Homo sapiens: one gene and its partners. The protein of the gene in region 1 interacts with the protein of each later gene in a biochemical or structural test. Each region holds a gene or a part of one and is shown in the gene's direction. Other genes may lie near its edges. The genes, in order: OMG, PTPRD, PTPRF and PTPRU.

Region 1 (7,914 bases):
TTATTTTTTTTAAAGAAATTCTTTGCTGGGGGAAGAATAATTCACATTTAACTGCATGTAATTTTCCCCAGTGAGGTCAGTGGAAGCTGAGCAGCCAAACAGTGGCAATCCTTGCTTAATCAGCAGGAAGAGATACAAACTAATAAATGCAGGACAGAAGAAAATGCTGGAACAAAGAAAAATCTTTTAGAGAAAAGATTAAAGAACTAAGATCCAGAAGAGAAAGTTTATTTCATGAATACTGCAAAAGAATAAGGCACAGGGGAATAAAAGGTAGATTAAAGTTCACACCACATACTAGTGGTGCTCTTAACCAAAATAGCATTAACCAGAGTCAGACACAACCCTGAAGACCATTTGGTTCAACTCCTTTTGTTTGTTAACTACTGAGAAAACAGGACCAGAGAAAGTAAGTGATGTGCTTAGAAGTGGTATTAAAAGCTGAGTTTGCTCCCTGACTATTGGTTCAACACTCTTTTCACTAATATAGGACCAAAGAGCACCTACATCATGCACTGAAACATACATATATCACATAAGTCTTCTATTTGGTGTCAGTGGTGAGGGACACAAATGAATTAGATGAGGGTGATCTTTAACTGTTGTTCTTACTGAATTCTGATCAAAAAGTAAAGTAGCACCTTTGGGAACCTATAACTAAAACACTGTGGTACCGGTATATGACTAAACAAACAGATCAATGGAACAGAAGAAAAAGTCCAGAAATAAATATCAAATCAGTGGAAACAAGCATTGGAACAATTGGATAGACATCTGGAAAAAAGAAAAAATTTGATCCATACTTCACACTATATTGGAACACCAAGGACCAGAGTTCTAAATATAAACCATGAAATTATACAAGTAATAGAAGAAAATATGAGTAAATTCCTTTATAATCTGGAAGCGGGAAAAAACCTTCCTAGCTGAGACTCAAAATCCAGAGGCAATAAAAAGGGAAATCAAATTATATGAAACTTTTAAATATCACACACATGCAAGTGCGCATTACACACAGACACACACACCTCACCATAATAAAGCCAAAAGACAAATGGCAAACTGGAAAAAAAAATTAAAACTTAAATCAAGACAAAGTGCTAATACCTCTAAAATTTAAAATGCTCCTAATATGGGGCAGGAAGGGGAAGACCCAAAACACAACTTTTAATAGTGCAAAACATTAAAAAGACAGTTACAGGAGAAAACATTTAAATGGTCTTTAAACATATGTAAAGACATATACTCCCCCTCATAATTACAGAGATGCATTTAAAATTAGATGGAGATACTTGCCTATCAGATGGACAATAAATCCCAAAGTTCAACAACAAAGTATACAGTGAGGCTGTATAGAACTCGACACCATGATACACTGTTGGTGGGACTGCAAAATGGTATAATCAATGGAGAGGAATTTAGTAATGTCTGGAAAAATTCCAAATGCATTTACCCTTTTACCCAGCAATCCTACTTCTAGGAATCTTTTTCAAAGATTTACTGGCAAACATATAAAATTATTTAGGTACAAGGGTATTCACTGTGGCATTATTCGTAACAGCAAAAGTCTGAAAAACCCAGATGTCCACCAATAGGGGACTGGTTGAATAAGCCATGGTACATTCCCAAATGGAGTACTATGGATCAAACAGTGAATCATACAGATACCTATATACTGATATGGAGTGATACTCAAGATACAGTAAGAAAAGAAGAACAAGTTATCTAACAGTATGTATATATGTCACCTTTTATATTAGAAGGGGGGATAAGAACATACCATACATATGCTTACATTTTTTTTAGGTTTTCAAAAAGAAATGTTAATGATACAACGAAAAACTAATAAAAACAGTTACTAATAGCAGAAGGAAGGAAATAGGATGGAAAAGACAGAGAAGCAAGATTTATCTGAATATACATTGTTATATATATAATTTTGACTTGTGATCCTGAAAAGCTGAAAACTGAAACAAAGTTTATATCAAGTTGGTGATATAAAAATACACAGAAAAGAATTATTTCACATTGCATTAGAACACAGAATTTACTATACACTTTTAGTAAAATAAAGCAAGCAGAGCTACAAACAAATTTTAAACTTTATTCGGTAGTCTATAATCTAATTGTAGCAATCAATACTGGTATTATTTTGAAATTATTGTGAGATGATGCAAATGAGCAATTATGTCAATGATATGAGGAATCACTTATAGAAAATATGGGGGACAGAAGAACAAATTAAATCTTCCCAAAGAGTCAAAGAGAAAACTCCAAGATGAGAGACATTTTAGGAAATAATTGACTGAGTTTTGGCAACAAGCCAGTGGCATAAAGAAAAAAAGGAGTAGGGAGGTGGGCAAAGAAACTGATTCATTTGGATTTTGACTTGGTAATTTCTATGTTGTTATTTCTTTCATGCTTTTAAAGTACTTTATTGAGTACTCTCAGTTGTATTCAGCAGGAAAATCAGTCTAAATAGCCAACCATATTACCAAAAATAAACAATATCTGACTCTCAAGCATAGCAAATGTTACCTATAATAATGGAAAACTGAAACCACTGATTAGCGTGGGATAGCTATTCCTTGGCAGATGCTTTGTGATACCTTTCACAATGTTGGGGTAATATATCCTAGGACACAAAAGAATACGTAAATTAATTTACTGCTTAATCTAGAATGTAAAAGTTGCCTAACTATCATTACTGACCTAGACAGCCTAATAGAAAATGTAATGAGTCTGAATAATATTTAAAATAAGTTGTAACACATACTTATGCCTCTAAAAAATATTTTTTTTGAGTAACAGTAATACAGTATTATTTTATTTCATGAGAATTTCTTTTATTTATTTATTTATTTTTATTATACTTTAAGTTTTAGGGTACATGTGCACAACGTGCAGGTTAGTTACATATGTATACATGTGCCATGCTGGTGTGCTGCACCCAGTGTAAGAGATTGTTAGAATTCAAATATATTGAAATGATCTCCCTTTTTCTTTTTGAGAATTTTACAATAATCTTTGAATAATATGAAGCAATTTGGTATGTCCCAAACTTGAAATGAGAAACATTGCCACTACTATTGCACTGGAATTTTCTATTATATACAACAGAAACTAAACTTGATACAGCCTAAACCCAAATTCATTTGAATCCATTAATGAAGTAACATGTCTTTTCTTTCAAACAAAAGTACTGTTAAGTGTAATGAAAATGCATAACTCTACTTCTACACTGACTTAATGAGGTTTCCTAAAATTAAGAGATTTAAGTGGTCGGTAAATTGACCCTCAGTCACATCTTTAGAAGTGCAGCAGTGTATATATGAGCTTAAATAGAACTCTAAATGTCAATGCATTCCCTATTTCCACAATATTGCTGAATGTAGTATTTTTAACACATTATTTTAAGCACTATGATTGATGGCTGGTTTCCTAAATCCACAGTAAGAATCCAATTGAGAGTTCAACTGAACCCTCAAAGTAAAGTGGCAATAAAGCACCCAATCAACAATAAACTTCTATGTTGCGGACTCTTAAAATGCAGATACTTTTCGAGGAACATTAGTTTTATACAAAAGGTGGCTCCTAGAGTATAGTTTCTCTTGTAAGAAAATAAACTTCAAATTTTAATACAACAAATTCTATTTGTGGTATAATCTAAATAATGCTAATATAATTTAGAGAAAAACAAACGATTTAGTAACAAGGCATAAAGAGACTTTCCTTACACATAACATGCTAAATATTACTCGTTTTTAAATGGTGCCACTTGGTAACGAAAATACCGTAACTTTATTTGCTTTCTTTAAACTTGCCATTCTGGAAATCAGATTTGTGTTTTAACAGATTTACACAAGCAGTCCACTGAAGAGTGGAGCAAAATTTATCATAAATCTGATCTCACTTTATAAAACTCATGATGAAAAATTTTCCTTTTATATCATTTCATGTAATTTTAAAACTATAAACTACTTTCCCAGAAAGATGAAATGTGCAACACTCTGAAATCACCTAAATTGATACTGCTATTCTTAAAACATAAAATCAAATAAATGGTCATTCATACAGCACCAAAAATGTCTTTGGAAAAAACAATACTCATATCCACTTACCACCCAAGGTTGCATAAAGAAAAAAAACTTTAACTCCAAATATATAAAATAAAACATGTTTATTTTACATAGGAACTGATAATCTGAAGTATAAGATGCTAATTTCCAAATGTATCCTGGCTTGTGTGTAGCCTTGGTCAAATGATCATTGTATCAGAAAGATAAAGAAAAAATAATCGTATTTCAGTACTTCTATACATCCTAAAAGGGAAGACGGAACACTTAAGTGGTTGATAAATTTGAAAAGCTGATTAAACATAATAATCACCATGTTGGGGGAAGACATAAAAGTCATAAAACAGATTTTTTATAATATTAAAAAAGTGACATGAAAATTATACAATTTTAGAAAGGAATATAAAAAGGCAGGAGTTAAAAAATAGTGGGACTAATATCATAGAAAACTATCCATGAGGAAGGTCAAATTTATTTTCAACATGTAAAAAGGATAAAGAGTAGAGGTATTTTAAAAATTCACAGATTCTTAATGAGGCAAATGTTAAAATATGGAACCCAATCTCAGACAAATACATAGAAAGGAGTAAGGGCCAACTCTCATGCATAAGGTATCCCATCCTATAGCAAATCAGATATATAGGTACGCTTGATGCCACAAATTTTTTAAAAAATTGTCCATTTTGTTGCGTGTGCACCTCTTGCCATAAATTTGAGTCAGCACCAGCGACAGCTCTGCAGTCCTCCTATGTGGTACTGATCAGGTGGTTGCAGAGCTTCAGCTCACAGCAACACAATGCAGCTGAGCAGGCAAGCACAGCCCACAGCCAGAAACAGTTCCGACTCTACAGAACAAGACGACCTTTAAGTTTCCCAGAGAAAATGAGATGCTGATGTTGAAGACGACACCACGGTAAGATGTTATTTAAATCAGTAAAAGGCTGACTTTGGAATCTTTTTCCTTTTTCTTTTAAGAAAAAGTCAACGTTAGGATTAAATATATATTCAATAGCAAGTGCATGCACCAGAAATTTGCTGCAGTGTCAGTTGAGGGATATTTTTTATACATTCAGTCACTCTGTAAATATACATATTGTTTTCCTTTAAAATGGGCACTGAAATATACAGAAAAAAATCACTTTATAAAATGTGAGGTTTATAGGTACTGTGTTGGTCTGGATTTTTCAAGTGCTTTTTACAAAGATATATTTATCCTAAAAACATACAGATAAAATTTCGAAGAACTGCTTTAATATCTAAATAAAATCTACCCTATATACACACATTGAATTACATTACTGCAGAGATTAAAAAAAAAAGACACGACAGCCATTTTTTCTCATCTGAGTAAGAAAGCATATCATCAAAAATAGTAATAGCCTACAACTGCAACTATTTATTTGCAAAGAATGCTATTTTATCATATTAAGGCTCTAGAAAGATAAATAAGAAAGAATATGGTTAGAAAAGGGGGGAGGGAGAGAGAAAATAAAGGAGAAAATGCAGGAGAGAGTAGGGAGAGAGTCTCTCTCTACCACATAGCCCAATTGAAGGATTAAGCATTTGGACTATAAATGAAGGGGAGCTTTGTTAGTTTAATCACTGGAACAATTATAAAAGGACTCGACAACAACGAGGTTTATTGAAAATTTTGCCTAATGCTAACTGACCCATGCAGATGCCTAAACTGTATTTGCATATTAAAAGAAGGGTGTATCTGTTTGTTTCTAGGCTTTGATGGAATATCAGATATTGAAAATGTCTCTCTGCCTGTTCATCCTTCTGTTTCTCACACCTGGTATTTTATGCATTTGTCCTCTCCAATGTATATGCACAGAGAGGCACAGGCATGTGGACTGTTCAGGCAGAAACTTGTCTACATTACCATCTGGACTGCAAGAGAATATTATACATTTAAACCTGTCTTATAACCACTTTACTGATCTGCATAACCAGTTAACCCAATATACCAATCTGAGGACCCTGGACATTTCAAACAACAGGCTTGAAAGCCTGCCTGCTCACTTACCTCGGTCTCTGTGGAACATGTCTGCTGCTAACAACAACATTAAACTTCTTGACAAATCTGATACTGCTTATCAGTGGAATCTTAAATATCTGGATGTTTCTAAGAACATGCTGGAAAAGGTTGTCCTCATTAAAAATACACTAAGAAGTCTCGAGGTTCTCAACCTCAGTAGTAACAAACTTTGGACAGTTCCAACCAACATGCCCTCCAAACTACATATCGTGGACCTGTCTAATAATTCTTTGACACAAATTCTTCCAGGTACATTAATAAACCTGACAAATCTCACACATCTTTACCTGCACAACAATAAGTTCACATTCATTCCAGACCAATCTTTTGACCAACTCTTTCAGTTGCAAGAGATAACCCTTTACAATAACAGGTGGTCATGTGACCACAAACAAAACATTACTTACTTACTGAAGTGGATGATGGAAACAAAAGCCCATGTGATAGGGACTCCATGTTCTACCCAAATATCATCTTTAAAGGAACATAACATGTATCCCACACCTTCTGGATTTACCTCAAGCTTATTCACTGTAAGTGGGATGCAGACAGTGGACACCATTAACTCTCTGAGTGTGGTAACTCAACCCAAAGTGACCAAAATACCCAAACAATATCGAACAAAGGAAACAACGTTTGGTGCCACTCTAAGCAAAGACACCACCTTTACTAGCACTGATAAGGCTTTTGTGCCCTATCCAGAAGATACATCCACAGAGACTATCAATTCACATGAAGCAGCAGCTGCAACTCTAACTATTCATCTCCAAGATGGAATGGTCACAAACACAAGCCTCACTAGCTCAACAAAATCATCCCCAACACCCATGACCCTAAGTATCACTAGTGGCATGCCAAATAATTTCTCTGAAATGCCTCAACAAAGCACAACCCTTAACTTATGGAGGGAAGAGACAACCACAAATGTAAAGACTCCATTACCTTCTGTGGCAAATGCTTGGAAAGTAAATGCTTCATTTCTCTTATTGCTCAATGTTGTGGTCATGCTGGCTGTCTGAGGGTCTGCATTTTCTGAAACTAATGAAAGCACTCCTCCCTGATGTACAGTTGGGAAAATATGTCCATATCTAACCAGTGATTCGAGCTATATTTAAGTATTCAAGAAAGCCAGTCTTAACATTTCTAACTCTGATGTAAATGAAGTAACTTGTCTTAAATAAAAGAAATGCACAATGTCTTGGTACTTGCTGCTATTTTACTGTCTTAATTAAGTAAACTAATGAGTTTCTTTTATAAAAAAAATGAAATGTTTTAAGGCTTCAATTTATTGCACAAAATATAAAGCATCTAAACTTTAATATGTATTTTATGTATGTTTACACTGTCAAACATCTGGAAAATAAAAGGTCTATGCTCATAACTGTGTCATTTGGCTTTCCAGTCATACCAACTTTAGCAGAATCAAAATGACCTCACCATTTTTGTTCTAGGGTACCTTGGTAAAATCTTTAAGGTAAATAAAATGGCGGTAGTATCCAAGGATATTTTACTGAAGTAAAATCGTAGCTGCCATCCCATGAATGGTTATGCTACAACATTATTTTACAGACAAGCCATAATTGTTTTAAATCTAAATGATGTCCTGCTTCTGAGGAACTCTTGGCTACTTGACAGATTATATAATGGACAAAAGCTCTTCAAAAAGCTAGAAGACACTAGGCTTTGCATTTTAATAAGAAAAGTTTAACGGTTGTGTTTTTTGCATGTAAGAAAAGTGTTAAAAACATAATGAAAAAATTTAAAAACATGTAAAGAAGCAGTTTTAGTGCAGATTTA
Region 2 (7,025 bases), on another chromosome or scaffold:
TGGGTGGGGGTGGGATTAAAGAAAAGACTGAGAGGGCTTTAAGTTACAATAGGATGGGTTCCCTTAAGAAAATACCTAGCTTGATTTTGAAATTTTTGTTAGAGGTAATTTTGTTTCCCTGGGGATGTTTTTCTCTCCTTTCTTTTTTTATGGAGTCTGGGGTGGGGAAATATGAAGAAAGTCATTTCTTCTCTAAATTCTTCGAAAGTCCCTTGATCCTTTTTCCACAATAGTGACCTCCCTTGCTGCATGAGGCATGTGTACCTTCTTCCATGGAAAATTTCAAAATGATGCTAGCTATTGTTTCTAATACCATGTTAGTCTGTGAGATATTGCTAACTTTTCCAGCTGAGATAGGAAGGATGAACTAGAGCGAATAAAGATGTTCAAGTAGCAGTTGAAAGCCTTGATATGGCCTTTTTACTCTCTCTGTGTTTCCCTTGTTTTTCTCCTTTCCTCATTTCATTGTGTTCTGCATCAAACCCCCTACATCCCTCAGAGCTGCGAGAAGGTTGGTGTGTTTTTTACTTTTTACCCACCTTACAAAACTATTAATTAAACCAATAACAAAGAATACAAATGAAATGAATGTAGCTGCATTGTGTTCTTCTTTTGGTTAATGGTATGTTTTAGCAGAGAATGCCCTGGCCATGGCTTCTGGTGCTTGCTGGTGGTATCTAACTGTGGTGCATGGTGGGAGAGAATGTACCTGGGTGCATGGTAACTGGTAACACTTAACTCTGTAAGGTCCAGTGAACTTGGTCAGTGTTCCTGCTTTCCTTCCTGCTCCACTGTCCCCATCTCCCACCCTGCCTTTAATTTCTGTCTTATAAGGATGCCTGCTGCCCATAGAATGACTTTTTCTAGTTTCTCCCCTAATCCCAAGCATGAAGACTAAACTCTCCTCCATTTTTCTTGATATGTTCTTTGATACCTCAGAGTCTACACTGGCTCCTGCTTGCTTTGTGTAACCTCTGTGAATTGGCTGCAGGAGGCATGCTTAGCTTTCTCTTCTTCTCCTATGACTGTCATTCACCCATGAGGCCATTGCAGTGAGCCATCTCAAATAAGCGGAGGTTTATCTCGACCTTAAGAGCAGCCAAAAAGTTTTCAGACAGAATTACTTATCTTCTTCTTGGGGTTATGAGGTTACTTATCAGTTTATTTATAATTTTTAAAAAATCTTTATTAAATGTATTTAAGGTGTGCTCCCTAAAGATTACCCTCTAGATCTCAAATTCTTATGGTATGACATTTTGCCAGTAAAAGCCCCAGATGAAACCAATTTATCTTTCACTTTCTCCTTGTATCACATCCAAAACACATTTACTTAAACACACATAAACCTGCAGATTATCTGAAGCAGGAACACTGAACTGAAATTGCTTGGTAATTTTTCTGTGTTATGTTGCTTTAATATGATCTCTTCTCTTAATGTCATGTCCTGCTGTATGTTTTAGATCCAGTGTCCCTCAATTTGAATGTGGGCATAAAAAGCCTTTTAAAAGATTTTGTTGTCATTTATGTTGTTTTACCTTTGATATGAATTGAATGGAATCCTGTATGTGAAACACCCAGCTCCCTTTCTGAATTTGCAATCCTTACCTTTAACAACTTGAGCTTAATCTTCTGTCTTTCAACCCTGTCATCCCCTAAGTCCCTGTGTTTCAATCGTTATACTTTACCTCCCCCTTTCACGTTTATTTCTATTGCCCCCTTATTTCTTCTGCGGTCATTGCTGTCTTGGATTCCAGCCATTCTTTCAATATCCTTAGCACGGGCCTTGAGATTCCATCTTGTGCATGCCTTGCATGACCCAATCCAGTATCTCTACTGGTGTTAGCCTGTTTCTTCTTCTGTGACTGTAAATCAATATGTATATACATTTCTGTGTTTGTTCCAGTGTTAGTGTGAGGTCTTGAGGCTGCATCCACTATGAATCTGAAAACATAAAGTGCACTTTCAGTGTACTCTAGGTGATGTTTTCCAGGGCTGGGATGTGACAGTGTGGTCCCACACCTACATTCACATCAACTGGAAGTGCACAGCACTGAAGTTGGTTTTGATACTCAACTTAAACATGCTGGTGACCTTCCAGCCCCCTTTTCTGCATATACATGCCTGCATAGAATCATTGTTATATGCCTGCATGTATATGTTTTTGTGTTTATCTTATGCATGATGTTTGTGTATTGTTAGTTTGTAGATAGTTTTTTGTGGGGCCCTTGTAGGTCTGAATCAACTTTTGTATTAGTGTGTCTAAGATATCAATGACTAAACTAAATAAATAATTCTGTGTATACACACACCATACTTGTATGGTCTGTATTATCCACAGTTTTTCTTTATGTTTTGTTTTTGGACAATCCACAATGTTTCAATTGTTGAATCGTGTCTGTACGGTGCATGTCATGTGTTTAATAATCCACTTTTTCTTGCCTTGTATATGTTATCATTTCCCTTGTGTTTTGTTCCAGTTCGCCGTGTCCCACCAAGATTCTCTATCCCACCCACTAATCATGAAATCATGCCAGGCGGAAGCGTTAATATCACCTGTGTGGCCGTGGGGTCACCAATGCCTTATGTAAAGTGGATGTTGGGGGCAGAAGATCTGACACCTGAAGATGATATGCCAATAGGAAGAAATGTGCTAGAACTGAATGATGTAAGACAGTCAGCAAATTACACCTGTGTTGCTATGTCAACACTGGGTGTCATTGAAGCAATAGCACAGATCACTGTCAAAGGTATGCTCAATGGATTATGCTTTGAGGATCTGGGTACACTCAAGCCAAGTGACTAATGCCTCTAGAAAGCCCATCCTTGAAAATCTAAAATAATTCATTATTCAGCATTTTAAATGTGTGTATAACCTAATCATATCTGTGGTATTATATAACATGCATAAGCCTAGATAGGCGGATTTTTTCTTGGAAGTATCTGGCAGCCTATGTAGAGATAATCATCAGAATATTAAAAGACAGTCCATGGAGGCCCAGGCACTAACCAGACAGAACTAGGAATTTTACACATGGTCGACCATTATGGTGGGACTGATGTGTACAGTCTACATACTAGACCAGAACCTTGATAAGAACCCCAAGAAAAGTCAATATGAGCATTAATAAATGCTTAAAATTTCTAAATACAAAGGAAAAAGAAGAAAAAAAAAGTTGAAATCAACATAGTCTAGTAATAGATGATTTAACTTTTTGGTGAGCCCTACTATTAAAAATCAAAAGGCAAGTAAGAGTATATTCTGTTGTAGTTTTATCTTTCACCTTGCATAGATGAGTGCTCAAGGAATATTCTTTCCTTTAAAAAACAGACTAAATATAACCAAAGTACTATATTACATGAATATTTTTGAACTAAAGAGAAAGAGTACAAGCATGTAAGGGTACCGTTTTTTTTTCCCCTAGTGTTTATAGAATTCTAGAAAGTGTTTGCAAATTGAGTCAGACATAGGGCAACTTAAGTTTTCTGCAGATGGCTAGAACTATTGCAAAATGAACACAAATTATCTTCTTTTCCTAGGCAATGTTGTAGGCATTTGGAATTCAGCAGCAAGTAAGAAGTACAAGTTTGCTACTCTTGAAAAGCTGCCATTCTAGGGGGTGATCTTAGAAAATGCAATACACGTTATAATTGGTATCGCATCTCTAACCAAGCGTATATATCAAATATATGCTATATAAAACTAATGACATGAGAACAAAGGTACACATTGTCAACATTTACAATCGTGAAATAATGTTATATTGTGTAACCTTAATATAATAAGCACACATGTATTTATCCGTACATTACAGACATAAAACCTGTACTGTACAATAAATGTGACTTAGTGAAACTAATAATGTCAGCTAAATATCAGTGAGCACAGCTTTAATTAGCAATATTTGTATTTGCTTTGAAAGTTCAGAAAGACATGTAGGGGAAATCTGGAGCACACACAGCCTTGAAAAATGCCAGGTCAGAATATTTAAACAAATTTCATTTTATTATTATTTTCAGTAAATTCCCTTGACAAAATACTATCATTCTGTAGTTCTTTGAGTAGTGTGTAAATATTGAATCACCTTTTTTATAATTACCATTTCAGCTTTAAATATTTGAAGGCTTGCTGAAGACCTTTAAGAATTCAAAAGCAGGGGCCACTTTAAACTAATATTTTGTTCACCTTCTCATCTTTGTTTTCCTGACTCTTGCCACTTCCCTGTCTTTTCCACCTCAAAAATAAACAAATAAAACATAAGAGTGAATCTTAATGGCAAATTAAAATAAATCAAAACAAAAGAACAGGTTGAAGAGAATGAGGTGAATGGGTGCTGACTCATTTATTCAGTTAACTGTTTAACGATTCTCATTAAAAACCTACCGAGTGCCAGGCAGCATTCTAGGCATTCACAATTTTACAGTAAGTCAGAAGTACAAGTTTGCTGCTCTTGAAAAGCTGCCATTCTAGGGGGTGTTATACTTCTTGCCTTTATGTTGGCAAGGAAACAGGGACACTAATGGGCTGATTATATGAATGTTACCCTTTGAGATTTCTCTAAAGAGTCAACTATTAGAATGCCCCTTCCTACCCTAATAGCACTGCGTTTCAGAATCATTGTTTAGAATAAGGCACTTGAATATGAGGTCAGCAAAGCAGACAGTTTATATTTTTAATTAGTAGTATTTTGATTTGTATTCTTCTGCTAAAAAGAAAGAATTAGACCTCTAAAAAGATGGATTTTATTGCAAATATTTGTCATGTAGCTACATTGGATATTTCTGATGTGGAATATAGAATGCATATTAATATGACCATAACATACCTTAAAAAGTGATTGGTGAATGTGCCTTAATTTACTTCCTTCAGCAATTTTTAAATATTAAGAATAAAGCATTGATTTGAAATTTCTATTCTTTTGCACCTTAAAATTTTTGGTTTTTCATTTACAAGAAAATTTTTAGTAATGGTATTGTGTCTTACCAGAATATAGATGTTATTGTTTCATCGCAATTTAATTTCATTTCAATGTATTCCACATTTTGTTCTTTTCAATGTTTATCGGTATTTCAGTTATACCATTTATTTATTGGGGCAAGGGGCTAATTGGCCAAGCTTTTGGTATAATAATAGTAATAACTGCAGCTAATACTAAGGTTTTTTTGTGGGTTCCAGTTACATTCTAAGAATCTTAGTGGATTGGCTCATTAGTCTTCACAGCAAACCCATGAAATACAGTTACATACAGCTGTATAATATGACTTAAATAATAATATTTTTCCCATTTCCACATGAGGAAACTAAAGCAAAGAGAGGTTAAGAAATGCGTGCAGGATCACTTAGCTAATAAGTAGAGGATTTGGATACAAGCCTAAAAATATGCTATCAAGCCCTTCTAGGAAAGCAGGATTTGTGTCACCTATGAATGTTTTCCTGTCCTTCTTGGCCATTCAGAAAACTACTCTTTGCTATAATTTCATTTAATTAAATCTTCAGTAGATACATAATCCTGTCATTTTCATAGTAGAGTTTATAGATTTTTGAAATATTATAGGGATGATGGGTAGTCATTGTCTTTTATCTTCCCCCATCCAAGCCTTACCCAAACCTCCAGGAACTCCTGTAGTGACCGAGAGCACAGCTACAAGCATCACACTGACGTGGGACTCTGGGAACCCTGAGCCTGTTTCTTATTACATAATTCAGCATAAACCTAAAAACTCTGAGGAACTTTACAAAGAAATTGATGGGGTGGCGACCACACGCTACAGTGTCGCTGGACTAAGTCCCTACTCGGATTATGAATTCAGGGTTGTTGCTGTCAATAACATTGGGCGGGGGCCTCCCAGCGAACCTGTGCTAACACAAACCTCAGAGCAAGCACCATCCAGTGCCCCGAGGGATGTCCAGGCACGAATGTTGAGTTCGACCACCATTTTGGTACAGTGGAAGGAACCTGAAGAGCCAAATGGACAGATCCAAGGATATAGAGTTTATTATACAATGGATCCCACTCAACATGTCAACAACTGGATGAAACACAATGTAGCTGACAGCCAAATCACTACTATTGGCAACTTAGTGCCCCAGAAAACATATTCTGTCAAAGTCCTGGCTTTTACCTCAATTGGAGATGGTCCCCTTTCAAGTGACATACAAGTCATCACTCAGACAGGAGGTAAGTTTGGTTGAGGAGGGAAATAGGGCAGGAGGGAAGGGCTGGTGCAAAGAGGTGAGAAGGACAAAAACAAAGAAGGAACAAAGATGGTATGAATTTTAATTTTTGAGATTTAGGGCTTCAAAGCAACAGATGATAGATATCTGAAAAGGAACAAGCATGGACATCTGAAAAACTAATCATTTTGAGCAGAACAATGCATTAACACCCCTTCTTTTTAATTTGTATGGGAATGACTTGAAGACTTCTCTATGTGAGATAGAACAATGTCTCCCCCATGCCCAGTTTTGAGAATAGAAAAACGACACTTCTTTGTAATAGCTAGTATGGTAGAGTGGTCTCAAAAGAGTATTTAATTTGTGTAAGATTGGATGGTTCAAGACAAAGCTAAAAAATAAAACTGTTACAGGGCCTTGGGTATTTAAATGGCTTATATTTGCCAGAAGCTACTGGCTTGAAAATAAGTATTCTCTGAGTGGCTTTAATTTCTGTTTTTCTCTGTATGGCCTCAGTGGATAAAGAGAGACAGTTACCGAGATCTCAGATAGAACATTGGGCCTGATTGATTAACTTTGCTAAGAGCTACAGCAGACATTAGACTATTTTATGAAGGAAAACTTGGCCCTCCCAGTGGTTTTATTTTTCTAAGAGGTTATCAAACCTCTTTGGTCTTTGAGTCAAGGTGATCAGTTTGGCTTTGGGCTAATATAAAATAACAGGCCTCTTCTAAAGTTTATTCTTGAGCCACGCACAGTGGCTCACGCCTGTAATCCCAACACTTTTGGGAGGTAGGTGGATCACTTGAGGGTCAGGACTTTGAGACCAGCCTGGCCAATGGCAAAACCTCAT
Region 3 (6,309 bases), on another chromosome or scaffold:
ACTGTGGTCATGATGACACGGCTGGAGGAGAAGTCCCGGGTGAGGCTGCAGGGCCCTGCCAGGAGGCGGGTGGGAAATGCCCAGCCACAAGGTGATACAGGGCACCTTCTTCTGTGCCGCTTTCTTCTGTGGAGGAAGTCGCTCAAGTGATCCCCAGATGCTATTGTTACTGGGGGTATTATGCTCCCCAAATACTGGGTGTTTCTGGGATACAGCATGTTCCCCACATGCTAGTGGGTTCCTTAAGATGTTAATATGTTTCACCAAATGCTGTCATTTTCGGAGAATGTTAATGTGTTCCCCAGTTGCTGGCGTGTTCCCGGGGTATTCATGTGTTCCCCAGATGCTGGAGTGTTCCTGGGGCATTAACACATCTCCTAAGTTAATTAGTGGAAAGAGCTGCTGTTATCTGTTTTTGGACTGCAAAGCATTGACTGGAACGTAAAATTTACAGAGCTTGAAAATGGCACATAAACGTTATGGGTAAATTTGGCAGAAAATGTGCCTGGTGCGATCTGGCGTTGAATAAATAATTTTCAATTATGACCCTTATTCCACTAGCTAGGGCAGGGCGGTGACATAGCTTGAGGACCTGATGTGGCTTGTGGAGGACAGGGGGCAATGGATCTGAGAGCTCAGGGCTGGGGGGCTTTGTAGCCAGAAAGGCTACAGCCAGGGAGTTGACCAGCCTCCACCCTGCTTCTGCCCGTCTGAGCCTGTGGGCTTCCTTCAGCCTGCCCTGCTCATCCTCCTGCAGGTAAAATGTGATCAGTACTGGCCAGCCCGTGGCACCGAGACCTGTGGCCTTATTCAGGTGACCCTGTTGGACACAGTGGAGCTGGCCACATACACTGTGCGCACCTTCGCACTCCACAAGGTATAGCCTTTCCCCAGTGCATATCTCTTACCCAGACACTGTAAGGACAGTGGCCTGGGTGTGGTGTGCTGGGTCGGGGGGAAGCTGGAGCCTGGGTGTTGGAGGGTCGGAGGCTCAGGTGTGTGAGTGATGTGATGATCCATGTTATGGGAACAGTGCTAGGAGCTTCAGGCTACTCTGTGTGGCTTCTGAGTCCCATGGGGAAGTGGCGGGTATGGCCTCAGCATCAGGTCATTCAGTCCTGAGTCTATGGCAGGTAGGCTCCTAGTCGCCAGTATGTCCCCACTTTGTCCCCCAGAGTGGCTCCAGTGAGAAGCGCGAGCTGCGTCAGTTTCAGTTCATGGCCTGGCCAGACCATGGAGTTCCTGAGTACCCAACTCCCATCCTGGCCTTCCTACGACGGGTCAAGGCCTGCAACCCCCTAGACGCAGGGCCCATGGTGGTGCACTGCAGGTGAGAGGGTACAGTGCCACCCAGAGGGGTGGGTGGGGTGGGAGGTGGGGGCGCCTGTGCCTCAAGCTGAGCCCGTGTCCTGCAGCGCGGGCGTGGGCCGCACCGGCTGCTTCATCGTGATTGATGCCATGTTGGAGCGGATGAAGCACGAGAAGACGGTGGACATCTATGGCCACGTGACCTGCATGCGATCACAGAGGAACTACATGGTGCAGACGGAGGACCAGTACGTGTTCATCCATGAGGCGCTGCTGGAGGCTGCCACGTGCGGCCACACAGAGGTGCCTGCCCGCAACCTGTATGCCCACATCCAGAAGCTGGGCCAAGTGCCTCCAGGGGAGAGTGTGACCGCCATGGAGCTCGAGTTCAAGGTGGGGCTCGGGTGGGCCTGCTTGGCTCCAGGGCCTAGACTGGGTCATGCAGATGACCCCCACCCCCACAGGAAGCCTGGCCTGACCAATCCCTGCCTCTCAATAGTTGCTGGCCAGCTCCAAGGCCCACACGTCCCGCTTCATCAGCGCCAACCTGCCCTGCAACAAGTTCAAGAACCGGCTGGTGAACATCATGCCCTACGAATTGACCCGTGTGTGTCTGCAGCCCATCCGTGGTGTGGAGGGCTCTGACTACATCAATGCCAGCTTCCTGGATGGTTATAGGTCAGCATGCATGTCACTGCCCCACCATGCCCTACAGGGGCCTAGGCCTGTGCCTGGCTGGTGGGGGTGGGCAGCAGAGTAGGGCCAGCCTAGAAGACCAGAGAGGGCTGGGTAGAGCAGTGAGGACTTCCTGGAGGAGGGGTGATCTGAGCAGGGCCCCAAGGGGCTAGGCAGCCTAAGGGGAGACTCTAGGGGCAGCAGCACCTCCAGCATGTCCAGTCTTATGTCCACCCCAGACAGCAGAAGGCCTACATAGCTACACAGGGGCCTCTGGCAGAGAGCACCGAGGACTTCTGGCGCATGCTATGGGAGCACAATTCCACCATCATCGTCATGCTGACCAAGCTTCGGGAGATGGGCAGGGTGAGCCCACCCTTTCCCCCAGGGCCCCTGTCATACCTGGGAGAACACCAGCCACCCTTGGGGGAGCTGCCGCCTATGTTACTGTCTCCTTTGACACCCCAGCTGCTTGTCAGCATGGCCTCAGGCGCCCGTTATTACTACCTGAGGCATCTGTCCCAGAATCCTGTGAAGCCTGGCACCCCTCCCCTATTCCTTCTCACCTGATTATGGGGGCCCGACCCTCTGTCCACAGGAGAAATGCCACCAGTACTGGCCAGCAGAGCGCTCTGCTCGCTACCAGTACTTTGTTGTTGACCCGATGGCTGAGTACAACATGCCCCAGTATATCCTGCGTGAGTTCAAGGTCACGGATGCCCGGGTGAGTGAGTGCATTGAGTGTGTCCATAACGCTGCCTGTCCACACGCTGGGTGGATGGCTGCCTGCATGGTACCTTAGCTCAAGCTTCAGAAATCTGAGGCGGTGGGTGGGTATTAGGGTGTGAGCACATCTCCCCCTGTGGCCTCGGGTGCAGTGACACAGATGCATGCCTGTATCATGGTACTACCCTGGTCTAGTCCAGAGGGGTGGCTGCCTAAGGCACGAATTCTAATCATGTACCCCACCCACCTTTCCCAGGATGGGCAGTCAAGGACAATCCGGCAGTTCCAGTTCACAGACTGGCCAGAGCAGGGCGTGCCCAAGACAGGCGAGGGATTCATTGACTTCATCGGGCAGGTGCATAAGACCAAGGAGCAGTTTGGACAGGATGGGCCTATCACGGTGCACTGCAGGTGGGACTGGCCCCCTGGAGGGCTGGGGTGGGTGGGCCTGAAGGCCTGGCAGACCCACTGCATGAGGCAAGCAGGACTCCTGACCCAACTGTGTTTCTGAGCAGTGCTGGCGTGGGCCGCACCGGGGTGTTCATCACTCTGAGCATCGTCCTGGAGCGCATGCGCTACGAGGGCGTGGTCGACATGTTTCAGACCGTGAAGACCCTGCGTACACAGCGTCCTGCCATGGTGCAGACAGAGGTAACGCAGACCAGGCTGCAGGGCCAGGGCCTTGGCAGCAGCGCTGCTGGGAACCCTAGGCTTTAGCAACAGTTTGATGCCCACAGGCATGTGCATTCATTCATGCTGCCAACCTTTCACGTGGCCTGCGATAGGCATGGTGGTGTGTGCTTATGGTCCTACCTACTTGGGAGGTTGATGTGGGAGAATCACTTGAGGTCAGAAGTTCGAGGCTGCAGTGAGCTATGATTATACCACGGCACTCCAGCCTGGGTGGCAGAGCAAGACCCTGTTGCTGAAAACAAAACAAAACAAAACAAAAATGCTGCAACATTGCCTGTGCTGCCTGGGGGCTCAGGGGATTGATGAGTAAGATGTGTTCTTTCATTCGGCAGCTCTCTGCTGAGCCCCAGTGGTGTGCCTGGCTCTGGGCAAGGTTGCACAGAGCAATCCTTATGGGGTGCCCAGTCAGGAGCAGAGAAACATGATTGGGATGGCAGATGGAAGGCAGGTAGATGTGGGGGCCTGAGAGAATGACAGGAGAGAGATGAGCCTTCAGAGGCTCTTTCAGGCTCCCCCGCACACTGCCTGATGTAGCTGCCAGGGTCCAGCACCTGCTCTTGGCCAGCAGAGGCTAACTCCATGGCTGCAGTGTGAGTGTCAGCTGTGTAGTGGGGGTGTCCACTGGCGCGACCCACACTGACCAGCCCCCTATCCTGGCAGGACCAGTATCAGCTGTGCTACCGTGCGGCCCTGGAGTACCTCGGCAGCTTTGACCACTATGCAACGTAACTACCGCTCCCCTCTCCTCCGCCACCCCCGCCGTGGGGCTCCGGAGGGGACCCAGCTCCTCTGAGCCATACCGACCATCGTCCAGCCCTCCTACGCAGATGCTGTCACTGGCAGAGCACAGCCCACGGGGATCACAGCGTTTCAGGAACGTTGCCACACCAATCAGAGAGCCTAGAACATCCCTGGGCAAGTGGATGGCCCAGCAGGCAGGCACTGTGGCCCTTCTGTCCACCAGACCCACCTGGAGCCCGCTTCAAGCTCTCTGTTGCGCTCCCGCATTTCTCATGCTTCTTCTCATGGGGTGGGGTTGGGGCAAAGCCTCCTTTTTAATACATTAAGTGGGGTAGACTGAGGGATTTTAGCCTCTTCCCTCTGATTTTTCCTTTCGCGAATCCGTATCTGCAGAATGGGCCACTGTAGGGGTTGGGGTTTATTTTGTTTTGTTTTTTTTTTTCTTGAGTTCACTTTGGATCCTTATTTTGTATGACTTCTGCTGAAGGACAGAACATTGCCTTCCTCGTGCAGAGCTGGGGCTGCCAGCCTGAGCGGAGGCTCGGCCGTGGGCCGGGAGGCAGTGCTGATCCGGCTGCTCCTCCAGCCCTTCAGACGAGATCCTGTTTCAGCTAAATGCAGGGAAACTCAATGTTTTTTTAAGTTTTGTTTTCCCTTTAAAGCCTTTTTTTAGGCCACATTGACAGTGGTGGGCGGGGAGAAGATAGGGAACACTCATCCCTGGTCGTCTATCCCAGTGTGTGTTTAACATTCACAGCCCAGAACCACAGATGTGTCTGGGAGAGCCTGGCAAGGCATTCCTCATCACCATCGTGTTTGCAAAGGTTAAAACAAAAACAAAAAACCACAAAAATAAAAAACAAAAAAAACAAAAAACCCAAGAAAAAAAAAAAGAGTCAGCCCTTGGCTTCTGCTTCAAACCCTCAAGAGGGGAAGCAACTCCGTGTGCCTGGGGTTCCCGAGGGAGCTGCTGGCTGACCTGGGCCCACAGAGCCTGGCTTTGGTCCCCAGCATTGCAGTATGGTGTGGTGTTTGTAGGCTGTGGGGTCTGGCTGTGTGGCCAAGGTGAATAGCACAGGTTAGGGTGTGTGCCACACCCCATGCACCTCAGGGCCAAGCGGGGGCGTGGCTGGCCTTTCAGGTCCAGGCCAGTGGGCCTGGTAGCACATGTCTGTCCTCAGAGCAGGGGCCAGATGATTTTCCTCCCTGGTTTGCAGCTGTTTTCAAAGCCCCCGATAATCGCTCTTTTCCACTCCAAGATGCCCTCATAAACCAATGTGGCAAGACTACTGGACTTCTATCAATGGTACTCTAATCAGTCCTTATTATCCCAGCTTGCTGAGGGGCAGGGAGAGCGCCTCTTCCTCTGGGCAGCGCTATCTAGATAGGTAAGTGGGGGCGGGGAAGGGTGCATAGCTGTTTTAGCTGAGGGACGTGGTGCCGACGTCCCCAAACCTAGCTAGGCTAAGTCAAGATCAACATTCCAGGGTTGGTAATGTTGGATGATGAAACATTCATTTTTACCTTGTGGATGCTAGTGCTGTAGAGTTCACTGTTGTACACAGTCTGTTTTCTATTTGTTAAGAAAAACTACAGCATCATTGCATAATTCTTGATGGTAATAAATTTGAATAATCAGATTTCTTACAAACCAGGACTCTGTCTCAGCTGTTTCTGGAACCAAAGAGTCTGGGCCAAATCAGTAGCTAGGATGGGTTCTGGAGATTCCCTGCTCCTGAGGAGACGGGGAGGGTACCCTAAGTATTTGTGCCAGTGTAGGCTCCTGGCATGGCTACCCACTTTCAGAAAGGAGTGGTTATAAACCCTGAAAACCAGGCCACCAAGAGCCAGCCAGGCCAGAGCCACCAGTGCATGTGAAGAGCACCCTAGGCCGGGGAGCATACCCTTTGCCTCTCTTTCCCTTTAAGATTCTGTGGGTTGCACTATCGGGGCATTGGGACTGCCCCTCTCCCACTACCTTGGAGGAGAGGGATGGCCCTGTGGCAGTAGAGACTGAATGTATGGAAATTGGTTAGTGAGATCTCCTGTAATTATTGCAATGTGGATAATGGACACAAAAAACAGTGTGTCCATCTGGCCCCTGGACACACAGCTGCATCACCCACTGAGCTGTGCAGCTGCTCCACTGGTGAGCAGACAAGTCCT
Region 4 (7,412 bases), on another chromosome or scaffold:
AGTACTGTGAGCTAGATTTGGACAAACCTGGCTTTATGTCCTAGCTCTGCCATTTTCCAGCCATTTGATTTCGGACAAGTCACCAGGCCTCTCTGTGTCTTCACTTTCTTACTCTTAAAATGGAAGGAATACTAGTTATCTGTTTCAAGATTGTTGTGAGGGTCAAGTGAGATATTATCCACTTGAAGCATTTAGTACAATGCTTGGCACATGGAAGCATTTGATAAATATTATCGGGGGTTATTGTGATTAAATGAGAAATATCACACATAAAACCCTCAGACTAGGGTCTGGCTTATAGTATGTGCTCACTAAATGTCTGTACTTGTTTTTATTATTAGAGAAAGTTGGTGTCCCATGGTGGGGGAAAGGCTTGGCCCCACATTTATGTGCCAGCACACACACGATGACCAGTCCTGCTTACCCTTTTCCCCAGTGACACATAGGCTTACTTGAACTGGGAAGTACAACGTAACCTTCTGTTGTAAGACTCCCTAGGTGACATTGAGATGTCGACATTCTCTTCTTCACCAAATTGGCTCCTCTGAATTTCTGGGGAGCCCAGTCAGGAAGCCTGAAGAATCATCCAGCAAGTCCTCCTCCTTGGGGCTGGACTTTAGCCTCCTGTGCATCCCAATAGCCCTCACTTTTAGTCTAGGCCATCTGGGTTCTTGCAGGGGCATAGTTTGAGAACTACTGACTGAGGGGTTCAAGTCCAATTTCCTGGACTTGCATTCAAGATTCTTTGCACTCTGACTCCCACACTGCATTTCCAGCTTCATCTTCTCCTGTTGGACCGTGCATAGCCTGTGATCCAGCTGCATCTGATACCCGTCTTCCCCAGTGTGTCTTGTGCCTTTATTCAGGCCACTCCTTCTGCCTGAAATGCTGTTCCCTGCCTCGGAAACTCCAGGTTCAGATGTCATTTCTTTGATGTTTCAAAACTCCCTAGGTCATCTGCTGCTGCCTTTGTGTTTTCCCTGGAGCTGTGTTATGGCCTTTAGTACATCGTCTCTTATTTATTCCCCTCCAGGCAAGACTGGAGCCATGTTTGGTTTATCTCCATAACACCAGCACCCGATATGAGCCTGGCACAGGGTAGGTGTCATAAATATTCCATGAGTTGCAGGTAATTGAATTTCCTCATGGCCTAGAACGGTCTGTGGTGCCATCTCCTTTTCCCTAGATTTGGGCTGGTCACTCCAGGCCAGGAATTTCCTTCTTCCTTCTTCTCTCAAGGATTATAGAAGTCTGTGGTCTTTTTTTTTTTTTTTTTTTTTTTTTGAGACAGAGTTTTGCTCGTTGCCCAGGCTGGAGTGCAATGGCGCGATCTTGGCTCACTGCAACCTCCGCCTCCCAGGTTCAAGCAATTCTCCTGCCTCAGCCTCCTGAGTAGCTGGGATTACAGGTGCCCGCAACTACGTCTGGCTAATTTTTGTATTTTTTTTTTTTTTAGTAGAGACAGGGTTTCACCATGTTAGTCAGGCTGGTCTCAAACTCCTGACCTCGCCTCTGCCTCCCAAAATGCTGGGATTACAGGTGTGAACCACTGTGCCCGGCTGAAGTTTGTGGTCTTTTAAAAGTAAAGCAGAAAGTCCTCTTCTCATCTGTCTACCTGTTGCTTGTGTTCTCTTTCTCCCTCCATTATAGTCTCTGCCATCTTCCCCTGCACAAAGGGCAAAGGGATGTGGAATCAGTCAGATCTGGGTTCAAATCTAGGGCCCGCCGTCTATTTACTAGCTGTGTCACCTTAGGCAAGTGTCATATGCTCTCTGAACCTCAGTTTCCACACCCGTAAAATGGGATCACTGGTAAAACTCCTATTTTGAGGCTCTCTCAAGAGCCCTCTGCAAACAGCACCCTTGGTTGTTTCTTCTGTTCACTGGTTTTCTCTCCTTGAGTTTCCTTTTCTGGGTGGGCCTCTCTGGCTCCTCTCTGCTCCAGCGTCTCTGTATCTTAGTTTCTTCCCTAAGGTTTCCCCTTGGTTTCTTCTTGCTTCTGCCTCCCTCTCCCTATTTAATTATCTGTGTCTAATTCTTGCCTGCTGTGTCTTTTGGTCCCTTTCCTAACTCAGTGTGGAGCTCATCAGCTCTCACAAGAGAGGAGACCAAGAGCCCAGGAACTCTCAACCCAGCGATACCTCCTCCAGCCCCAGGGCAGCTTCAAGGTGTGTCCATCTCAGCATGAAGCCAGCTAGGAGGGGCAGGGCACAGGGAGGGCCTACATATACCTTGAACTCCTACGCTTTGTTCAGTGTCACTGCCCAGTGGTCAGACCCATCTGCCCATGGCTTTCCCTACTTCAGCAGTCTTTATAGCTGGAGCTGTAAAAAAAAAAAAACAAAAAAAAAAAAACCCAGAGATCAGAACTTATTACTCCTTATTACTCCTCTGCTTAATTACTCCACTTCAGTGGCCTCCCATTAATTACTCTTAGGGTTGAACCTCAAGCCCCTTCCTTGCTCATAGTTTCTTGCCTGACCTACAGACCCTGCTGACTTGTCTAGCTGCACCTGGCTCCCTTCTGCCCCTGACTCACTCCATGCCAGCTGCCCGGCTTCCTTGCAGCTGCTTGTACCCACCAGCTCCTGCCTTTGCACAGGCTGTCCCCTCTGACTGCAATGTTCCTCTCCACTGATTTGCATGAGGTTGGCTCCTTCTCATACTTCAGGTCTCAGTTCAAATGTCACCATGTCACTTCTATAGCAAAGCCCTCTTGGACCACTTATCTAAAGGAGATGCCCCTTCCCTATGTTCTTTATCATTATACTCCCTCGTTTCCTTTAGCTTGCATATCTTAGATGGTAATGATATATTTATGTACATGTTTGCTGTTGGGCTCTCCTAATAGAATGTAAGATTCATGAAGGCTAGGACCATTTCCCTTTCATTCATTCCATCCAGTCAGTATTTATTGAGCATCAATTACGTGCCAGAGGCCGGGCGCGGTGGCTCACGCCTGTAATCCCTGCACATTGGGAGACTGAGGCAGGTGGATCACCTGAGGTCAGGAGTTCCAGACCAGCCTGGCCAACATGGTGAAACCCTGTCTCTACTAAAAATACGAAAATTAGCCGGGCGTGGTGGTGGGCACCTGTAATCCCAGTTACTTGGGAGGCTGAGCCAGGAGAATTGTTGGAGCCTGGGAGGCAGAGGTTGCAATGAGCCAAGACTGCGCCATTGCACTCCAGCCTGGGCAACAAGAGTGAAACTCCATCTTGAAATAAAATAAAATAAAATAAAATAATAAAAACATGCCATATACTGGGCACGGAAATACAAGATGAGTCTTTTCCCAAGGGAGCTCATTTCTAGAGGTGGAGACAGATAATGAACTCATCATATAGCCCGCACTCTATTTGAAATTGCAACAATTCCCCTTCCCTTCCCTGTCCCCCCACCACCCCCAAATTTCCTGGTGTATGAGACAGTGATAAAGGACGTACACCAGAGGGTTTGCTTTTTTGTTTTTGTTTTTTTGGTTGTTTACTGTTCTTGTCTTCCCACTGGAATGTAAGGTCCATGAGAGTAGGGAATTTTTGTCTGTTTTATATCTCTACCCTGGCCTATAGTAATTGTTGAATAAATGAATAGACCCCAATAAATATTTGTTGAATGAATAGGTGTCCAGATGGGAGGAAGGTCTCAGCCCCTATTCAATTCAAACCAAACAACTTTGATTCAAATCTCGGTGCTGTCAAATACTGTTGCATAACAGTATTTATGCAGTATAATTATTGCATACCTAATATATGATGATTAAATGAGTCCATGTGGGTTAAACACATAGAAGGTACCTGGTCTTACATAGTAATGAGCAACGAGTTTGCAGATCATAGTGCGAGGGCTCGTTCTGGGTAGAGGCCCAAATACATTTAACCTGTGTAGCCAGAAGGTAGAGTAGGACCAGTGAGGGCTAGTGAGGGAGGTAGACTTGCACGTCATGAAATGAAAAACTTTCTAAAAGCCGGCGTTTCCAAAGCCCCAACAACCGCTCTTGGCCAGGTGATGAGCGCCCTGTTCCTGGAGGTATGTAGAACACGCATTTGAAGGCGCCAAGGTACAAGGGATTCAGGCATCGGATGGGACAGAGGCCGGGTGTCCCTGGGTCACCGTCCCTGAGAGCGCTGTACGGGAGCTAGGCGTGGGCCATGAGCGTGCTCGCCTGGCAGTGTTGGTGCCCGGTCCGTGGAGACGTCCGTGGGCGTCCAGACCCAGCCGCGGGGCCTCATGGCGGGGAGGATGCGGGAGCGGGGGAGGGGCGCGCCAGGGCTAGCGGGCGGCCGGACCCGCTGCAGCACCCGCCGTGGCCAGCAGGGAGCGCCGCGAGACCGCCGAACCCGCGGCCGGGCCTGACGTCAGCGCCCCGCTTGCTCCGGCTCGCGCTCTGGACTCGGCGCCAGTCCCGCTCCGCGCCGCGCCGCTCCGCTCCGGCTCGGGCTCCGGCTCGCCTCGGGCTGGGCTCGGGCTCCGGGGGCGGCGTCCCCCGCGCCGGGCCCCGGGACGGGCGGCGACGCTCCAACCATGGCCCGTGCCCAGGCGCTCGTGCTGGCACTCACCTTCCAGCTCTGCGCGCCGGAGACCGAGACTCCGGCAGGTAAGCGCGCGGCGGCCGGACCGAGCCTGCCCCGCCGAGCCTCGGGGCCCGTGGCGTAGCTCGGAAGAAAGTGTGAGTGTTGAGTGACCGGGCGTTACGAGCGTGCTCCCTGTGTGTGTCTGAGCGTAGGATGGGCGATTGTGTGCCCGGGGTGTTGCGTGACTGCGAATGTTGTGTGTCCGTGAGTTCTGTGCGCAAGAAAAGGTGATGTGTGTCGGCGAGTATGTTGGGGGTGAATGTTGTGTGCATCGAGGCATTGGGTGTGCGCTGAGTGTCTTGTGGGTCTGCCAGTGTGTAGTGTTTGTGTGGCCAAGTGGGTTGTGTGTGCATCTGAGTTTGGTTGTGTTGCGGGAGTTGTATCTGCTAATGTGTTGCATTTGTTTGCATTTTGTATGCCTGGCCGGGAGTGCTGTTTGTTTTGTGTCTGCGAGTGGGTTGTGTGTTTGTGTTATGCCTGTGGCCAAGGGTGCTCTCTGGATCCCGCCTGAGTGTGGATCCGGGAACGCGTGTGTGGCGTGTGTGCTTTTGAGATCCGTGTACATGTGTGAAGGCGTGGGAACGGGTCCGGAACGTGTGTGTCCGTGCGCTGTGTACGTGTGGGGAGTGTCTAGGGTATGTGGTGTGTGCTGCCGGGGGCCGCGTGGGTCCGAGTGAATGCCAAGTGTGCCGGGAATGCGTGTGTGGGAGCGAGTCTGGAACGGATGTGAGTGTGTGCGAATGTGTCCGTGTGTGCTGGCTGCGCGTCCAGGAATGTTGCGAGTGTGGAGCGCGCCTGGGCCGCGGCTGCGAGTGTGCCCTGGTCCCGGGGCCGCCCGAGGGGGCGGTGGCAGGACGTGTGTGCGCGCGTGTGCGTGTGCGCGTGTGTGGCGCGCTGGGCCGGAACAAGTTGTCGCGGCGGCGCCCCCTGGGCTGCCCGGGTCGGGCAGGGCCCGAGGCTCAGGGGAGGACCGGGCCCCGCGGCCGCCGCCTCGGGCATGTCGGACTGTTTGTTGTTTCGCAAGTTCCGCGCGGCGCTGGCGGGCGGCTGATCCGAGGCGGCGCCGGGGCTGCGGGGCGCCCGGGCCAGCGGGCCCCAGCGAGGGGCCGGCGGGCGGGCAGGGGAGGGCCGGACCGGCGGGCGCTCCTGCGGTGGCCGGGCCGCGGCTGCGCCCCGGGCGGCCGGGCGGGGGCTGTCCCCGGGCTGGGCTGCGACGTCCGGGCGCGGGCAGGGCCTGGCTCGCCGCCGGGGGACGGCGCCCCCTCCCTTGGCGCGCAGGACGCGCGGGGGACGCCCGGGCCTCCCGGGACACTCCCTTGGTGGAGCCTGCAACTTTGTGCGGCCTCCCGGCCGGCCGGGACCGCCAGGTGTGTGCTTGAGTGTGAGCGTGAGTGTGAGCGTGTGGCTCCGCGCTTGTCTGCTGTGTGGTCGCGTTCTCCGGGTGTGTTTCGGAGTCTGGTGTCTTTGGTGTGCGTGCGCGTGTGTGTGTGCGCGCAGCTGAATGTATGTATACGGAGCCTGTGTTTGTGTGTCCGTGTGCTCGTCGGAGTGTGGACGGTGTGTCGGATGTGTGTGCGTGCGCGTGTTCCACATCCCACCCTGAGGCCTGGGATCCTAGACCGCGGCCCCTTCCCGCGGAGTTTCGGGGCCCTGCTCCGGGTGACCTCCCCCGCCCTCGCCACCGGCGGGGCTGCTCCGCGGGCTCCGGGTAGCCGGGAGACGCCCGGGGCGGGATCCGAGCCGAGACACGTGCTGGAGCGGAGCCGCTTCCTCACGGTCGCCAGCCGCAGACAACTGACCTCCCCGGCATCGCGTTCGCGGCCCTGCTGCTGGCTCCGGTGTCTCGGGCCGGAACTCCTGTGGCTCCAGCGTTCGCGCCGGCCACTGGCCAGCGCTTGGGCCTCGCCCTGCAGCTCCGGGGCCATAGGGCACAGCTTTAGCTTTGACCTCCCCGTTCCCGAAAGGACGCCCAAGGCGACCTCCCACCCCATCCTCCCCAACTTCTCCCCCATGTCCTGCGGCAACTTTGCCTCCCTCTCCCACCGTGAAATCAAACCCGCGGGGTTCTGTATGCGCCCCATCCCCGCTCCTACCACCATCGCTTTGATTTCAAGAACACTCACAAGCCCCAAGCCCTGCCAGCAGGAGGACTGTCAGGAACTGAAGTTTGGGAGTGAGGCCTAGAGCAGGTTACTCCCATTCTTGATGCCTCAGTTTCCTCTTCTGCCTCATAGCCATCATGATAATGGTGTATGGCACTTTTGGTAGATACCAAGTACCTTGTAAAGTAAGGCTCTGTCTGTGAGTGCCAGGGAACAAAAAATGGATTTGAGAGTTGTTGCAAAGCCCCAGACAGAGGCTGTGATTTAAAGCTGGGGTATTAGGTGTCAAATTCTGCCTCTGCTACTTGCTATTCATGTGATGTCTGGCAAATCACCTCACTTGTAAAGTTCCTGGCCCCCTTTGTTATTCTTAGAGATGAACTCAGAAGCCCAAGTAGAATAGATGTGATACCCCTTGTCCCCAGTCTGGACAGAGTCAGCCCAGCTCCCTGAATGGCTCCGGAGCTTCCGGGTAGGGGCGGTGTGTGATGCCTTCTCAGCCTTGCAAACCTGGTAGTTATTTATTCTGCTGTGTTCTTGCTATTTTGTCCTTTTGGTCGCAGGAGTTGTGGACGGCAGGAATGAGGGAGTGGCTGCCCAGTGGTTTCAGGTTGGGCAATAAAGGCTTGTCTGGGCATCCCTCCCTTTTCCCTGGGGCTAGGGGAGGGGACTTAGCAGGAAGCAGTGACAGTGGCCGAGGTGGGGACGCTGAGCTCCTGGACAGCCTGCTGCCCAGC

Evidence for each region.
Region 2: the proteins of OMG (region 1) and PTPRD form a complex in vitro, tested with the Homo sapiens proteins (one study listed by BioGRID).
Region 3: the proteins of OMG (region 1) and PTPRF form a complex in vitro, tested with the Homo sapiens proteins (one study listed by BioGRID).
Region 4: the proteins of OMG (region 1) and PTPRU form a complex in vitro, tested with the Homo sapiens proteins (one study listed by BioGRID).

What each region holds. Positions count from the first base shown.
Region 1 is NC_000017.11:31,294,231-31,302,144, reverse strand, and holds OMG (oligodendrocyte-myelin glycoprotein precursor), read left to right. Parts: upstream 1-4,905; 5' UTR 4,906-4,989; intron 4,990-5,807; 5' UTR 5,808-5,813; coding exon 5,814-7,136; 3' UTR 7,137-7,498; downstream 7,499-7,914. UniProt on the Homo sapiens protein: Cell adhesion molecule contributing to the interactive process required for myelination in the central nervous system.
Region 2 is NC_000009.12:8,516,999-8,524,023, reverse strand, and holds part of PTPRD (receptor-type tyrosine-protein phosphatase delta isoform 1 precursor), read left to right. Parts: intron 1-499; coding exon 500-511; intron 512-2,477; coding exon 2,478-2,747; intron 2,748-5,594; coding exon 5,595-6,176; intron 6,177-7,025.
Region 3 is NC_000001.11:43,617,873-43,624,181, forward strand, and holds the end of PTPRF (receptor-type tyrosine-protein phosphatase F isoform 1 precursor), read left to right. Parts: coding exon 1-39; intron 40-757; coding exon 758-877; intron 878-1,175; coding exon 1,176-1,330; intron 1,331-1,415; coding exon 1,416-1,701; intron 1,702-1,807; coding exon 1,808-1,986; intron 1,987-2,222; coding exon 2,223-2,349; intron 2,350-2,581; coding exon 2,582-2,707; intron 2,708-2,965; coding exon 2,966-3,120; intron 3,121-3,224; coding exon 3,225-3,360; intron 3,361-4,062; coding exon 4,063-4,131; 3' UTR 4,132-5,794; downstream 5,795-6,309. UniProt on the Homo sapiens protein: Possible cell adhesion receptor. It possesses an intrinsic protein tyrosine phosphatase activity (PTPase) and dephosphorylates EPHA2 regulating its activity.
Region 4 is NC_000001.11:29,232,122-29,239,533, forward strand, and holds the start of PTPRU (receptor-type tyrosine-protein phosphatase U isoform 1 precursor), read left to right. Parts: upstream 1-4,400; 5' UTR 4,401-4,523; coding exon 4,524-4,596; intron 4,597-7,412.